Linked DNA regions of Homo sapiens: region 1 is linked to region 2. Evidence: fine-mapped expression QTL. Tissue or cell type: whole blood. Region 2 holds a variant in brackets; the other region holds the start of a gene. All regions are shown on one strand. Distances are between the middles of the regions.

Evidence for each region. PIP is the estimated chance that this variant, and not a neighbour inherited with it, causes the effect.
Region 1: FAM153A starts here. The variant in region 2 is fine-mapped to the expression of FAM153A in whole blood (TOPMed, PIP above 0.99).

The regions. Positions count from the first base shown.
Region 1 is chr5:177,778,398-177,786,397 of GRCh38, forward strand. FAM153A (family with sequence similarity 153 member A) reads right to left here and starts at 4,502. Exons shown (of 23, transcript NM_001413826.1): 1 at 4,346-4,502; 2 at 2,052-2,107.
Region 2 is chr5:177,712,036-177,720,296 of GRCh38, forward strand. LOC107986489 (a long non-coding RNA gene) reads left to right here. Exons shown (of 5, transcript XR_001743020.2): 3 at 4,419-4,567; 4 at 5,518-5,649. It also overlaps a transcript of FAM153A not described here. Among named protein-coding and RNA genes, the nearest start is that of FAM153A, 67 kb to the right of the region's middle. The variant C/T (reference allele first, on the strand shown) is at 4,621.

The DNA of each region.
Region 1 (8,000 bases), 66 kb after region 2:
TGTTTCTAGAAAAAAAAAAAAATGAAAAGGTGGTCAATTTTCTGCAACTCAACTGGGCTTAATTCCTTTTTATAATAATTGTGCAGGCCAGGTGTGGTGGCTCACATCCATAAAATCCTAGCATTTTGGGAGGCCAAAGCAGGAGGATCACTTGAGCCCAGAAGTTCCAGACTTCCAGACCAGCCTGGGCAATATAGTGAGGAAAAAAAAAACCTTAAAAGGAAAATTAGCCAAGTGTGGTGGGGCATGCCTGTAGTCCCAGCTACTTGGGAGGCTGAGGTGAAAGAATCATTTAAGGCCAGAAAGCAGAAGTTGCAGGGAGCCAAGATAGATCCCACCACTGCACTCCAGTACTGGCAACAGAGGGGGACCTGTCTCAAAAAATAATAATAATAAAAATGAATAAATAAATAAACAAATGATTGTGTATCCAGCTAGATGTAACTACACATAGCTACAATCCCAGCTACTCAGGAGGATGAGGTGGGACGACTGCTTGAGCCCAGAAGTTCCAGGCTACAGTGAGCTATGACTGTACCACTGAATAGACACCATATTCTAGCCTGGGCAACATAGAGAGAGCCCATCTCTTATAATAATGATAATAAATTAATTGTGCATCATTCAAGTAACTTGCATAACTGGAAAAAAACATAACCATTGAATATAGTATAATAGTATAACTACTGATCATAGAGTTCCTTTTACTTGCTTCTAATCTTTTCATTTCTTATAAAACTAAAATATGGTTGACCCATTCAAGGCAGTTCATCACAGAACAAGTCAAAAAGCCAAAAGAATTGCATGCAAGCTGTAGGCTGTGTTATCCACTACTCCCTGCAAGCAGTGGATTTGGTCATTAACAATCAGCAGGACTTTTAACTTTGTGTGCGTGTGTGTGTGTGTGTGCGCACCCGAACGCACATGTGTGTATGTGCACGTGTGTGTGTAAACTATGACAGATAAAACCATTTTGCTTATGTAAGAATATGTAACATAACTTGTGCTTCTCACAAAGGAATTGCTTTTCTGTCTTCTGCACTCAGTAGGTATCTTCAAAAAATAATCTCCTATTCGTATGGGTGCACACTGGTTCACTTTTACAGTTCTTACTGCCATTTATTTATTCTACGAGAAAGGGATTGTTGAGTTCCCGGTTCTAAAGATACTTCCTTAGTGACACAAATTAACAGGTAATACAGTTCACCCTTGAACAGCAAGGGTTTGAGCTGCAGGAGTTCATTTATATGCAGATTTTCTTCTGCCTCTGCAACCCAGAGACAGCAAGACCAACCTCTCTTCCTTCTCAGCCTGAACAACCTGAAGATGATAAAGATGAAGACCTTTGTGAGGATCCATTTACGCTTTATGAAAAGTCAATATATTTTTCCTGCAGATTTTCTTTCTAACAGCTTCACTTGTCTAGCTTACTTTATTGTAAGAACACAGTATATAATAATGCAGCACAAATAAAATAGGTGTTAATCGACCGTTTATGTTATCAGGAAGGCTTCCAGTCAATAGTGGGCTATTAGTAGCTAAATTGGGAAAATCAAAAGTTATACTTAGATTTTCAGCTGCACTGGAATCAGAGCCCCTAACCCCCACATTATTCATGGGTCAAGTGTAATTATGTATTTACTAAATATAAACAATTTATTATAAAAATAAACAACTTATTACAAAAATGAACTAGAAGATCCATATGTATAACAAGTCCAATTTGTTACAATGTGACTATAGAGAAAACATAAATATTATATAGGATTTTCGGGATCATAATTAAGTAAATGATTTTTTTTCAGATAATACTGTTTGAGATTATAAATCAGCTACAACTACCTTCTTAAATAACTCTTAATTCCAAACTAAAGAAGTTAAATATAAGAAACTAATTTACATGTATGTATATATGTATATATACATGCAATTTACACATCTTTTTAAACTTTTCTTTTCCTTCAAAACTACCTTAATCTTACATCTTAATTTTTTTAAACCAAGAGTAGGACCACCATGAGAAATGAGAAATTCACTATCAGAAGTCTTACCTGGATTGTAAGTTTTAAGAATCTTCTTTTTAAGTTCCAAAATTTGGTGTCGAATTCTGTATATAAAAAAGTAATAAATAAAATTGCTATTTTAATACTGAAATAAAAGTTACCATATTAAATTCTTAATGTTTGGTAAATGTGTAATCAAACTGATTCTTTTTTCCTCGCTGGCTAAAACAAAATACATCTTCGCACATCAACGTACTTCTATATCTATTGTCACCTTTGATGGTCACATATTATTGCATCCTATGGATGCAACTGAAATTTACTTATAAGATCCATTCTATGGGTTCTTTTTAAAATAAGTGCTGTGAAAAACAAAGTGCATGTATCTCTATTTCCCAAGGGTATTTTAGTATAATGGAATTGAAGGGTAACGGGCATACGCATTTTTAAAATATAGTACTTACCACCAAATTATCTATTTAAAAAGTAATCAGCAACTTAAACTTCAGGCAGCAGTATAAAAAACATCCTCACACATTGTGGATAGAAAACAGTTTCATTCCTCTTTTAATTTAAATTCTTATACCAGAAAAGCAAAGGCTTTTTTTCCTATTTACATAAGAAACTTGTAGATCTGCAAAAAAGTACTTTGCCCCCTTTTACAGTTTTTGATTATTTGATTTGAAAGAATTCCCTGTAAAATGAAGATGCACTTTTCAGGCCGGGCGCGGTGGCTCACACCTGTAATCCCAGCACTTCTGGATGGCGGCTCACTGCAAGCTCCCCCTCCCGGGTTCACAGCATTCTCCTGCCTCAGCCTCCGGAGTAGCTGGGACTATGGGCGCCCACCACCACGCCCGGCTATTTTTTTTTTTTTTTTTTTTTTTTGTATTTTTAGTACAGACAGGGTTTCACCGTGTTTGCCAGGATGGTCTCAATCTCAATCTCCTGACCTCGTGATCCGCCCACCTCGGCCTCCCAAAGTGCTGGGATTACAGGCCTGAGCCACCGCGCCCAGCCCTAAAATTTTTACAAATGTCATTACAATAGTAAAAGACAGTAGGTGTCATGCAAAAATGTTAAAACCTTGATTTTTTCATTCGGCTTATGTAAAATTGATAATCACAGAAAGAGCTCACATTTTGAGAAAAATGTGTCTTCCCATTCAGGAACACAGAACCCACCTCCCACTTCCAAGTTTCCTTCTAAGAACCTTCAGTAAAGAACCGATCTACACAGGTGGATACGGATGTAAAACGGACAGTTTTAGGTGAGAGCTTTTCGCTACTGAAAATGACTCACGGTTTTTTGTTTGTTTGTTTGTTTTTCTTTTTTGGAGACGGAGTCTCGCTCTGTCGCCCAGGCTGGAGTGCAGTGGCGCCATCTCGGCTCACTGCAAGCTGCGCCTCCCGGGTTCACGCCATTCTCCTGCCTCAGCCTCCCGAGTAGCTGGGACTACAGGCGCCCGCCACCACGCCCGGCTAATTTTTTTTTTTTTTTTTGTATTTTTAGTAGAGACGGGGTTTCACCGTGTTAGCCAGGATGGTCTCGATCTCTTGACCTGGTGATCCGCCCGCCTCGGCCTCCCAAAGTGCTGGGATTACAGGCCTGAGCCACCGCGCCCGGCCGACTCACGGTATTTTTTGATAGAGGAATGAGTTCTCTCATTAGGCACCTCCTATAATGTATATAACACCATGTTTTAAACGTGTAGGTTAAAAATAACACTGTGTATGCTTAGCTTGGTGAGTTAAATCACTCACATTCTCCACCAAGCGCTCCAGCTGGGGAATTATGGGGGATGCAGAGCAGCTGAGGCTCCGTTTGGCACCACCCCTCTGAGGGTGCCCTCTGAGGCCCCATCCCAGGGGCTGCGGGGAAGCCGGGCCTGGGGACCCCCTCCCACCCTGGGCTGAGCCCCCACCCCACTGCCTGTGCTGCCTGTCCCCGGCTTCCAGGTCTCTGCTCCTGCGCGCCAGGCAGCGCTCCACTTCCGCGGCTTCGCCCTTGACAGCGCCCTGTGGATCTTCCGATTCGGTACCCCGAACCCCTGTAGACGTGGCCTAGGGAGCCCCGGACCGCCGGCCCCTGCGGCTCCCAAAGCCGAAGAACTTCTTCAAGGTGGTGAGTTCTTCTCAGACCCCCAACCACTGGCTCCTGAGCCGCGGCAGCTCCGTGTCACCTTTTCACTCCCCCTCGCCCCACACCCAGCCCCAAATCCCCAATCCAACTCCAAATCCCCTATCCAACCCCCAATCCGCGATCCAAACCCCAATCCGTGATCCAACCCCCAATCCGTGATCCAACTCAAAATCCCCGATCCAAATCCCAATCCGCGATACCAAGTCTGCGATCTAGCCCAGAATCCGCGATCCCGCCTGGTCCACCCTTCAGCAGCGACACTGGCGGCCTCCGACCTCTCAGACCTAGTGAGCCTCGCAAAGCCGCCCGGCTCCCGGAAGCCGCAGGTGCAGGCGCCGCTGGGCTCGCGGGTTCTCCTGGGCTGGCCAGGGCTGCCCCAGGACCACGGACGGAAAATCGCAGGCGCGCGGCCCACCCCGCCTTAAGGGGAGGGCCCGCCTGGCCGTGTAGCCCGCCCCGCTCCTCCTTCCGAAGAGAGATCTGGTGCTGGCATGGGCACCCCGCGGCCACCGGAGTGGCTTCCCGGATGAGCCTGGCTTCGGCGCTGACGCTCTGGCCCTGGGGGCTGCCTGGCTGGTGTCAGGTAGCGGAAGACGCCTGGAGAGTCACTCGCTCCTTCCCCCACCCGCCCCCACCGCTGCTCGTGCCAGGACGCGCAGTTTGCAGTTGCAGCTCTGGCACTGGCGCGGGATGGCGGAGCTTCCCTTGGATGGCGTCAGGGTCACTGAGTGCACAGCCTACCTGGTCTGAGGGTCTGCTCCTCCTGGACACCTCTCCGGATCCTGATCCCTGGCGCTGGGCAATCCACAGGATGAGACTCATCGGCTGCTGGCGAAGCCGACCGCCTGACTTTGCTGCCTGGGCGGCTGGCCCCGGGATCCGCGCTGCTGGGGACGCGGGCCTGGTCTGCGGTGTCCAGCCACTTGCTGCGGGCGCGCCACGTCTAGGCTGGTGGCTGCAGCCGCAGCTCCGCGCCTGCGGGGGCTAGTGGGCCTGGTACCTGATGTCCTCAGGGTCAAGTGCATCGCTCCCCCACCTGAGGGTCTGCTCTGCCTTGACCTCCTCCAAGAGCGCAGGGGCCACCGGGGAGGCAATTTAGGAATGCCTAAATGGAAGGAACTATCCTTTCTCTGTCTTTAAGAAATAAGTGGCTTTTGTTGTTGTTTTTGTGATACCCAGCTACAGCAGAAAGCAAAGGGGATGCAGAGGTGAAGGTCCACAGCCAGTTCCTCTACTGATTCCCTCCAGGCATAAATGTTCAATCTAACGGCTTTGGTTGGCACTTTCACCTCAGCACTTACCTATGCCTACAGGTTTGTTCAATGGCAACTCTTGGATTTTGAATTAATACCCAATTATTTCATATTTTAATACCCAAACTATTTTAATAGTTTACCATATCTGCAATCCTGAATTAATTTTTTCTTTGTTTATAAAACAATCACTATAGTAAGATAAAAATCACAAAACACTTCCACATTTCATTGGGCTAAAAAAGCATTAAAACATTATACGTAAAAGATAAAAAATATATTGTTTCATCATAAAAATTATGGCTTTGCAAATTTTTTTTACCTTTAGCTACATTCTTACGATTCTTTAACTTTTCACTGTTATTTTATACATTTTTAAAACAATGCATACCAGTGTTTAAAAAACAAATGCAGCATTTCATCTAGGACTGAACATATAACGCTGGTCAGCTCTTTCAGCATGGTGCAGGTGTGGGCCTCAGGCTGCTTTCTGTTTACATGTATCAAATGACATGACCATCTTAACTGCACAGATACCATCTTCTCGGCTTCTTTCTTCTCCCCCAAAACTATTTAATGTTGCTTTAATGGCAACATCAATTTAACTAGTTTTGTAATTTCTGTATTTAATTGTCACATAACATTATATCCGTTCTTTTTTTTTTTAAAAAAAAAGGAAAGCATACAATCTTAGTTGCTAGGCCAGTTCTTCTGAATCAATTTGAAATCACCTTTTTTCTCTTTCATAATAACTACTTATTTTAATCAACAAGTCAACTATTATTAGATATTAACTTATTTTTTCTAGTTAAAATTTTGCTATCTTTCAAATAATTCCAACTCTTACACACACATTTAATGTACATAACTGTAACATATACATACATAAGCACAGGTTAAGCCAGATCTAACATGAATTTAGATATGCCAAGAAAGCCACATGACCATTATTTACATAAATATGACCAGTGTTCACATTTATCAAGGCCAATGAATATTAAGGTGATTGCTTCAATAAGAAATTAGGTGAAGAATTATTTGTTGAATATTGTCAAACACTTTTTTTAACCTGTTAAAGTTATTTAAGCCTGACCCAAATAATTTTTAAACTTTTTATTCTATCATGCCTATAGACAGCTTCATATATTAACCATTTCTGCTTTCGTGGTCCTTTGAGAATGGTATCTTAGTATGTAAGTGCAATAAATAAACAACTTTTAAAGGAATAAAGAAAATTGATATAAATTAGTCTGGAAAATCTAGTCTGTAGCTGGGCAGCCAGGTGCCCCCAGCTAAACCTCAAGGGATGGTTCTGTTAAAGTGAAGAAAAGAAGAATAGTGTGTAACAGAAGCCTGCTCTGTGGCTCCAGGTTACAGCTGTGGCCACCCAATCTGCCTTGTGCCTCCTTCTTCTCACAAGTACACACTCATCCCAGCCCCAAGCAAGAAAGACCAAAGTCCCTTGCCAGGCGCGGTGGCTCACGCCTGTAATCCCAGCACTTTGGGAGGCCGAGGCGGGTGGATCACGAGGTCAGGAGATCGAAACCATCCTGGCTAACACGGTGAAACCCCGTCTCAACTAAAAATACAAAAAATTAGCCAGGCGTGGTGGTGGGCGCCTGTAGTCCCAGCAGCTACTCTGGAGGCTGAGGCAGGAGAATGGCGTGAACCCGGGAGGCGCAGTTTGCAGTGAGCCGAGATCACGCCACTGCACTCCAGCCTGGGGAACAGAGCAAGACTCTCTCTCAAAAAAAAAAAAAAAAAAAGAAAGACCAAAGGCCCCTTCCGTTACTGTATCCAACCCACAGTGCAGGTCCTGTGGGCCATGTGCTATGCATCCCACCTGCATTCCACCTGGTTCACAAGTGGCTCCTTGATGTCCAGTGACCTATGAAAAATCATTTGTTAGGCCGGACGTGGTGGTTCACGCCTGTAATCTAGCACTTTGGGAGGACAATGTGGGCGGATCACCTGAAGTCAGGAGTTTGAGACCAGCCTGGCCAACATGGTGAAACCCTGTCTCTACTAAAAATACAAAAATTAGCTGAGTATGGTGGTGGGTGCCGTAATCCCAGCTACTTGGGAGACTGAGGGAGAAGAATCGCTTTAAGCTGGGAGGTGGAGGTTGCAGTGAACCGCTATTAAACTCCACTATTCTTTATTGGGCACAACCCAGGAGGTCAACAAATGTATTTTCCTGTTTTTATTTTATTTATTTATTTTGAGACAGAGTCTCACTCTTTTGCGCATCTGCACTCTAGCCCAGGTGACAAGAGTGACACTCCATCTCAAAAAAAAAGGTAATAATAATAATTATTATTATTCGTGGACCTGCTGGGTTACACCCAATAAAGAATAGTGGTGTAGAATCAAAATAGTCCCAATAAAATTTATATATATATATTTTTTATTATACTTTAAGTTCTAGGGTACATGTGCACAACGTGCAGGTTTGTTACATATGTATACATGTGCCATGTTGGTGTGCTGCACCCATTAACTCATCATTTACATTAGGTATATCTCCTAATGCTATCCCTCCCCCCACCCCACAACAGGCCCTGGTCTGCGATGCTCCCCTTCCTGTGTGCATGTGTTCTCA
Region 2 (8,261 bases):
TTGCAAAACACATGTCTGATAAAGGGCTTATATCTAAACTAGACAGAAAATTCTTAACAATTAAAAAAACAATTTAAAAGTGAGAAAAAGATCTGAAGAGACATCTGAACAAAGAAAATACACAAGAGACAAATCAGCAAATAAAAAGATTCTCAGCCAGTTGCGGTGGCTCGTACCTTTAATCCCAGAACTTTGGGAGGCCAAGGTGGGCAGATCACCTGAGGTCAGGAGTTTGAGACCAGCCTGGCCAACATGGTGAAACCCTGTCTCCACTAAAAATATAAAAATTTGCTGGGAGTGGTGGCATGCGCCTGTAATTGCAGCTACTTGGGAGGCTGAGGCAGGAGAACTGCTTGAACCCAGGAGGCGGAGGTTGCAGTGAGCAGTGATCACACCATTGCACTCCAGCCCAGGCAACAGAGTGAGACTCCACCTCAAAAGAAAAAATAAGGCAATTTTACAGTAAATACGAAATCTCATTTCTGAGGGGCCCCCCCCACCTCCAGTTAGGTGATCCATTTGGTATGGTTGGGAGATGTGACACTCAAGGCTGGTATACCACGTGGTTACTGATTGAGAAATGTACATCACTGGGAAGAATGGATGGACTGCATGTTCTCTATGCAGCTATCAGTACACCTCTCTCTAAGCTGGCTTTTGAAAAATATGGCTGTGGGTTTGAGGTGATAACACTACCCCCTCTCCAGCAGCTCCTGTGTCGTGGTGCACGTATCAGGTGGTCTTTGTAGCCAGTGAAGATAGAATCCGGATTGGAATGTATGTTAAACAAAGGCTGAATCAGGACATGTGCCAAGCTGAAAGACTTTTCCAGTTCTGTACAACTGAGCCTCAACAGTGTGTTATGACAAAATTGTTCTCCAAACATTAATTTGTGGTCCGCTCCCATACACAAACAATACCAAATAATGGACTATGTGTCCATCTTGTCCATCTTTGACACTGTGCTCTACCAAGAGAGACACCTCCCAAAGCCAGAAAATGTTTATTAAACAAAATCAATGAAATGTCTGAGCACAGTCCAGGTGGCAGAGGTTTACTTCTTGAATAAATGACTTCATCTTTTAACACCATTTCACACTGAAGTCCAAATGGCCTCACAAATATTTCCTGGATCCTAACAAAGAAAATAATCTCAGTTGAAGATCCTGTATTCAATTATTTTGGCAACTGTTTCTTACGTGTTTTCTTTTTCTTTCTTTTCTTTTTTTTTTTTTTGAGGAGTCTCGCTCTGTTGCCTAGGCTGGAGTGCAGTAGCACGATCTCAGCTCACTGCAAGCTCCGCCTCCTGGCTTCACGTCATTCTCCTGCCTCAGCCTCCCGAGTAGCTGGGACTAGAGGTGCCTGCCACCATGCCCAGCTAATTTTTTTTTTTTTGTATTTTTAGTAGAGATGGGGTTTCACCGTGTTAGCCAGGACGGTCTCGATCTCCTGACCTCGTGATCCGCCCACCTCAGCCTCCCAAAGTGCTGGGATTACAGGCGTGAGCAACCGTGCTCGGTCATCTTACATATTTTCTTTGTCTAAATGACTGAGCTGGGTGCTGAGGAGATGATGTTGGCCAGGATGGTCTCTATCTCCTGACCTCATGATCTGCCTGCCTTGGCCTCCCAAAATGCTGAGATTACAGGCGTGAGCCACTTTGCCCAGCCAAGATTGAAATCTTGATGAAAAAAAGCAGTTTGGAAACTTACCTGTTTTTTATTCAAAGCCCGTCCTCTCCTTCCTGTTCATGAATGGCAGGCATCCTGTGGTGACTGAAGAAGGGCCTAGCAGCAAAGGGACTCCATCGCCCGAGGAGCAGCTTCCGCAGGAGCTCTGGCAGGTTCCTTGGAAAACGTGGCAGTGCCGGCCCATGGTGCCCTGTTCAGAAATACAAGACTCAGATTTAGTAAAGCCAGTTGTGTAATGTGAAATTCGTTTAAAAAATCCTTAACCAAAACATTTCATAAGACCGATGTATTCTATCAACAGTATTTTACTGTATGTTCATACTTAACGGCATTAAGAATCACCGTGATGGGCTGGTGACATGCATCTGGTTCATCAATGTTAGTGGCAAAGCTTCCAGCATCTACAACTCTAGTCACCAAAATCAAGAATGTCTTTCTCTTCTCTTTTTACCTAATTACAAAAAAGGGATTGATTTATGAAAAGCAATATATTAACAAATAGCACAACTTATGTTCATATCATTGCCACTTCTAGCCACAAATTAGGAGTCAGGATTAAGGAAAACTTACCTAAGTTTTCCCAGGCTATTTTAAAATTGCTTTTTTTCTACAAAAATAAGTGTTAAATTCTTCTTTTGAGGTAGTCTCAATTAAGTTGATGCTAATTGGAAAAGACTATTAGATCTTAAGCTGAACTGACAATTTTATAAAATAAATAGACTTCCTTTTCTACTATTAGAATGTTCTAATAATGAGTTCTATTATTATAGTAATACTTCTGAATTCCCTTTTAAAATATTGTTACTATCTTGGCATTTTTCAGACTTAACCTGAAAATGTTTTAAATATCAAAATAGACATATCCGAAGTTTACAACAAGGGTGTACAATCATGATGGGCACACTTCCTCAAACATGGGGGACCAACCCAACTCAGACCCATCACACCCTCAGCGTGTGGAAATGTTAAACTATACAGGAACCATGGCTGGAGACAAAAATCTGTAGGTGTCCCTGACATAAAATGCCATAGTACTTGCCTGCAGCCTGGACACACCCTCCAATATCCTTCAAATCATCTCTAGATTACCCACAATACCTAATACAATGGAAATGCAACGTAAATGGTTGTTATACTTTATTGCATAAAGAATGACAAGAAAAAAAGCTTGTACATATTCAGTACAGATGCAACCATCCTTTTTTTTCTGGAATATTTTTGATCTGAGGTTGGTAGAAAGCAAGGATGCAGGACCCACAGATAAAGAGGGCTGACTGTATTTAACACACACACACATTTTCTTTTGCCTGAGTAAAAAACAAAATTGTACTTGTAACACAGCTAAAGGATGTCAACAAAACTGTTCTTCCCAACCTCAAATTGATAGAGACGACCTTCAAAGTCCACATAGAACCTCTTATTGCCTTTTGTATTTTTAGTAGAGACAGGGTTTCACCATGTTGGCCAGGCTGGTCTCAAACTCCTGACCTTGTGATCCGTCTGCCTCAGCCTCCCAAAGTGCTGAGATTACAGGCGTGAGCCACCGCACCCGGCCATCTCTATTTCTTATACACAATAATATTATAACAAGAAAGATGTAAATTTGCTTAATATGCAGCTTCTGTTTCTGAGTTCTGTAGCTGTCACTCAATAAGATAAGAAAGCTACTGATCTCACCAAATCAAGGACACAATACTGTTCCCTCAGGTAGCACAAATTGCATGGGCTCAAAATATGGGAAAGACAATATTTTATGAAATGGTGTATTTTAAGGCTGACCTACAGATAGGAATTTTTTTTCCAATCCAAGCAATAAAGCTTTGATGTGGAGGTTCACTCCACATCCTGTCCTGATCCTCAGCTGCCAGAGGCCAGCCTGTACTTGCCTTCACACTGCGTCTTCCTTCATGGCTTCAGGCTAAGATTGCTGGGAGCCTCCTATAAATGTGGTCATCTTATGGATTAAACACTTTTTTTGTTAGTTTTTTTTGTGTTTTAGAGACAGGGCCCACTGTCATCCAGCCTGGAGTGCAGTGGTATGATCATAGCTTTCTACAACCTCTAACTCCTAAGCTCAAGTGATCCTCCCAACTCAGCCTCCTGCGCAGCTAATTTTTAAATTTTTTTTTGTAGAAACGGGGTCTTGCTATTGTTGCCTAGGCTGGTGTCAAACTCCTGGTTTATAGTAACCCTCATACCTTGGCCTCTAAAAGTGCTGGGATTACAGGAGTGAGCCATCATGCCCAGCTTAGATTAAATACTTTTTTTTTTTTTTTCAGATGGAGTCTTGCTCTGTTGCCAGGCTGGAGTGCAGTGGCGCAATCTTAGCTCACTGTAGCCCCCACCTCCCAGGTTCAAGTGATTCTCCTGCCTCAGCCTCCCGAGTAGCTGGGACTACAGGCACGTGCCACCATGCTCAGCTAATTTTCGTGTTTTTAGTAGAGATGGGGTTTCACCATGTTGGCCAGGATGGTCTTGATCTCTTGACCTCATGATCCACCCACCCCAGCCTCCCAAAGTGCTGGGATGACAGGCGTGAGCCACCATGCATGGCCCAGATTAAATACTTCTTTAGGAGATGGACTAGAAATGGGTCATCAGAAATTGTTTTTACTTACATATGAAGAATTCCAATCTTCAAAAGAATTTTAGAACTCAATCAGAACTTGAGAACTTCTTTCAGTAGGTGCTGTGATTCAATAACCAGAATTCTGCTTTACTTTATAGTTACACAAGTATTTCTGTCATTTTCCTACTAAATTACATGAAGGGGGTTGTCTGCTTATGAGCTGCACCACCGAGCAGCATGCCTATCAGCGAGAAGGTGCCTGACAATTCTCAGTTGAAATGTCCTGACCAAGTTCCCCCAGAAATTTGTGAGTATTCAACTGTATTAAAACTAAATATATTGTTTTTAATGACAAATAGT[C/T]ACTATTTAGTAAAATGATTACTGTGCTATAATAGAACAAGTCCTTAGCCCAAAATTAAATGGCCACAGATTGACATATGCATAAAGCTTATCAACTATCACATAACACATTTTAACAAAAATCAAGAGGACTAATAGATGATCTCTTCTTTTTCTTTTGTGAGACAGGGTCTTGCTCTGTCACCCAGGCTGGAGTACAGTGGCACAATCATGGTTCACTGCAGCCTCCACCTCCTGGGTCCAAATGATCCTCCAACCTCAGCCTCCCAGGTAGCTGAGGCCACAGTAGCATGCCACCATTCCCGCTTAGTGTGTGTGTGTGTGTGTGTGTGTGTGTGTGTGTGTAGAGTCTGGTCTCAAACTTCTGGGCTCAAGCAATTCTCCCTCTTTGGCCTCCCAAAATGCTAGGATTACAGGCATGAGCTAAATCGTACCAAAGAAATTATATTTTAAAAGTAAAGTCAAAGGTAGAATTTAAGAACAAAGGAATTCTATTTCTATACTTACTAGTCCCAGGTAGACAAACAACACAGCCTTCCTCAGCCTCTACCCGAGTCATTTCAGACGAGTGTGAGCCATGAGAAATCAGAGCTGTTATTTTCGGGTTGAAACTGACACTTTAGGCTACTGTTTTCATTTGCCTGTTGAAAGAATAACTTAGCTGTATTAATCATTTAAATTAAAATTAAACATTTTGAAGGGAAAACATGGGGAGTAGACAACATCTACCTTACTCAAGGAGGCAGGTAATCAATGTAAAAGGAATGAGAAAAATCACCATTGGAACCACGGGTGTAATCAATGTTTCCAAGAGGCTTCGGCAATGATGCTGAAACCAGCTCGTGAAGGTTGCCAGGGACTAAGATGTTCACAGTGCTTTGATGTCTCATCCCACAGATGACTAATAACAAAAGGGAAAAGCTACCCTCACAAGGAGATGTCCAGTTGACACTATCTCAACCAAAATTATTAAACATAGCATCAGCAATCGTGGGACAAACAGACGCAAACATCTCCTGGTGTGAGGCGGTAAGTACACAACACTGCCTAATCTGAATTAGGCATTATTCCCTGTTTAATCTGGATCCACTCATGAGAACACTGTTTAATCTGTATTCTTGCCAAAATGCTCAATCTATTCTAGTCAGGAGAAGAAAAAAGCAACCAGATATATCTAGATTATGGGTCACTCTACAAAACAAAGAGCCTAGATTTTTCAAAATGTTTCATGTATTGAAAGAACTACTCCAAAGTAAAAGAATAGAGAGACGTGACAACCAAAGGCAAGGTTAATCTTTGATTAAACTGTGGATCTAAAACAAAAATAAAGAACATTTTGGAGACAATTAGGTAAATCTGAATATGGGCTGTACATCAAATTACTGTATTATAGTTAGATGGTAGAACTGTAATTACATAGAAATATGTCATTATTCACAAGAGATAAACGCTGAAGTGTTGGGGTAAAACATCATGCTCTTTTCAACTTACTTTCAAATGATTCAGAGAAGAAAGTACTTATGGAAAGAGAAAGAAACTGCAAAAGGTGGCAAATGCTAGCCACTGGTTGATCTGAATGAAGAATATGTAGATGTCCATTGTTTTGCCTTTTAATTTTCTGTAGGCAAGGGAAAGATAGGAAGGAGGGAAGGTGCAGGCATTTCTTATCAATTCATACCTGTAAAAAACAGAGTTAAAAGAAAACCAAAGGCTTAAAATTCATGTAAACATCCAGTGAGATCAACAGTGATTTTCTGTCAAATTTCTGAAAAGCCATTAAGACTGTAACATACCTGACTAGGATCACCTGTAGGTAACTTAAAGTACTTTTTCTGGAGGTTCCAGTCCTTCTACTTCGTATGCTTTATTCCATCATTCCTGGAATTGCCAGTTGTTCGAAATAAACCTCTAAATGATCATCGTAAGACATTTCATCATCAATATCATCCTTTAATAAAATTAAGAAAAAATAAAACAGGCTCTAAGGCAGTGACTAAACAATAAATAATTTGTAATAAAAAGGGCTGAGATATAAATGAGTCAATAAAATTAAGAAAAAATAAAACAGGCTCTAAGGTAGTGACTGAACAATAAATAATTTGTAATAAAAAAGACTAAGACATAAATGAGTCAATAAAATTAAGAAAAAAATAAAGCAGGCCTTAAAGTAGTGACTAAACAATTTGTAATCAAAAATACCCATCAGACATAAATGAGTCAATAAAGTATACAATTTTTTTTTTTGAGATAGAGTCTTGTTCTATTATCCAGACTGAATGCAGTGGTGTGATCTCAGCTCACTGCAATCTTCACCTCCCAGATTCAAGCCATCCTCCCACCTCAGCCTCCCGAGTAACTGGGACTACACGCGTGCACCACCTTGCCTGGATAATTTTTGTATTTTTTTTTGTAGAAATGGGGTTGTCCCATGTTGTCCAGGCTGGTCTTAAACTCCTGGACTCAAGCATTCCACCCACCTTGGCCTACCAAAGTGCTGGGATTACAGGTGTGAGCCACCTCGCCTGGCCTGTTTTTATACTTGACATGAGAAAACTGTTATAACTTCAGTCAATTATAAGTTATTATAAAAAAATATTTAACCTCTTTGAGAGGACAGGACAGAAAGATCCTGACACGTTATCAAAGCTTAGGGTAGGATAAATGTGCCATCACAAATGAATGGGGAAGAGAGCAGGCACTTCAGAAAATGGTGTGGCAAATGGTTACCTCTATCAAAAAAGTACAGACGAGCCTATCCTAAGAGAAGTAAAAGGAAGAAAGGGAGGAGAGAGAGAGAAAGAGAGAAAAAGGGAGGGAGGACACTGCAGAAGGCTTCAATGTTGTAACACCCAGCTCGGCAAGGATAAGATAAACCAAGAGCTCTCAGTCATGGTCTAAGCTGGCACTGGCTTTTATTTATTTATTTTTTTTTCGAGGTGGAGTCTCACTCTGTCACCTAGGCTGGAGTGCAGTGGCGTGATCTCGGCTCACTGCAAGCTCCACCTCCTGGGTTCACACCATTCTCCTGCCTCAGCCTCCTGAGTAGCTGGGACCACAGGCACCTGCCACCACATCGGGCTAACTTTTTGTATTTTTAGTAGAGACGGGGTTTCACCGTGTTAGCCAGGATGGTCTCAATCTCCTGACCTCGTGATCCGCCCGCCTCGGCCTCCCAAAGTGCTGGGATTACAGGCGTGAGCCAGTGCGCCCGGCCTACCTTTTTAGAGGTTAATTTTGCAATTAACATTAAGAGTCTCAAAAACACTCATCACCTTTGACTTAGCCATTTCACCTCCAATAATCTAGCATACTAAAACACTCTAAGATCAGATACATTTAGGTCAATAATTCTTTATCCACCAATTACACAATCCAAAAAAATTTTAAAAACTCTTTTGGCAGCACAAGCTGTCCTCAATAAATGTGATACTATTTGTAGTTTCTATTTATACCACTCAGCTGGCCTTCAAAGCCATGCATACTTTTAATGTAAGTAGCCCCAGCCTACTTCTCTGGGGTTATTTACCAACGCAGCCTCCCACAGATGCTGTAAACCTGACACAGAAAGCCCCTGGCCGTTCCCCAAACACTGCCCACATGCCTCCCAGCAGCGCCTTTGCTGATACTGTTTCTGCTTCCTG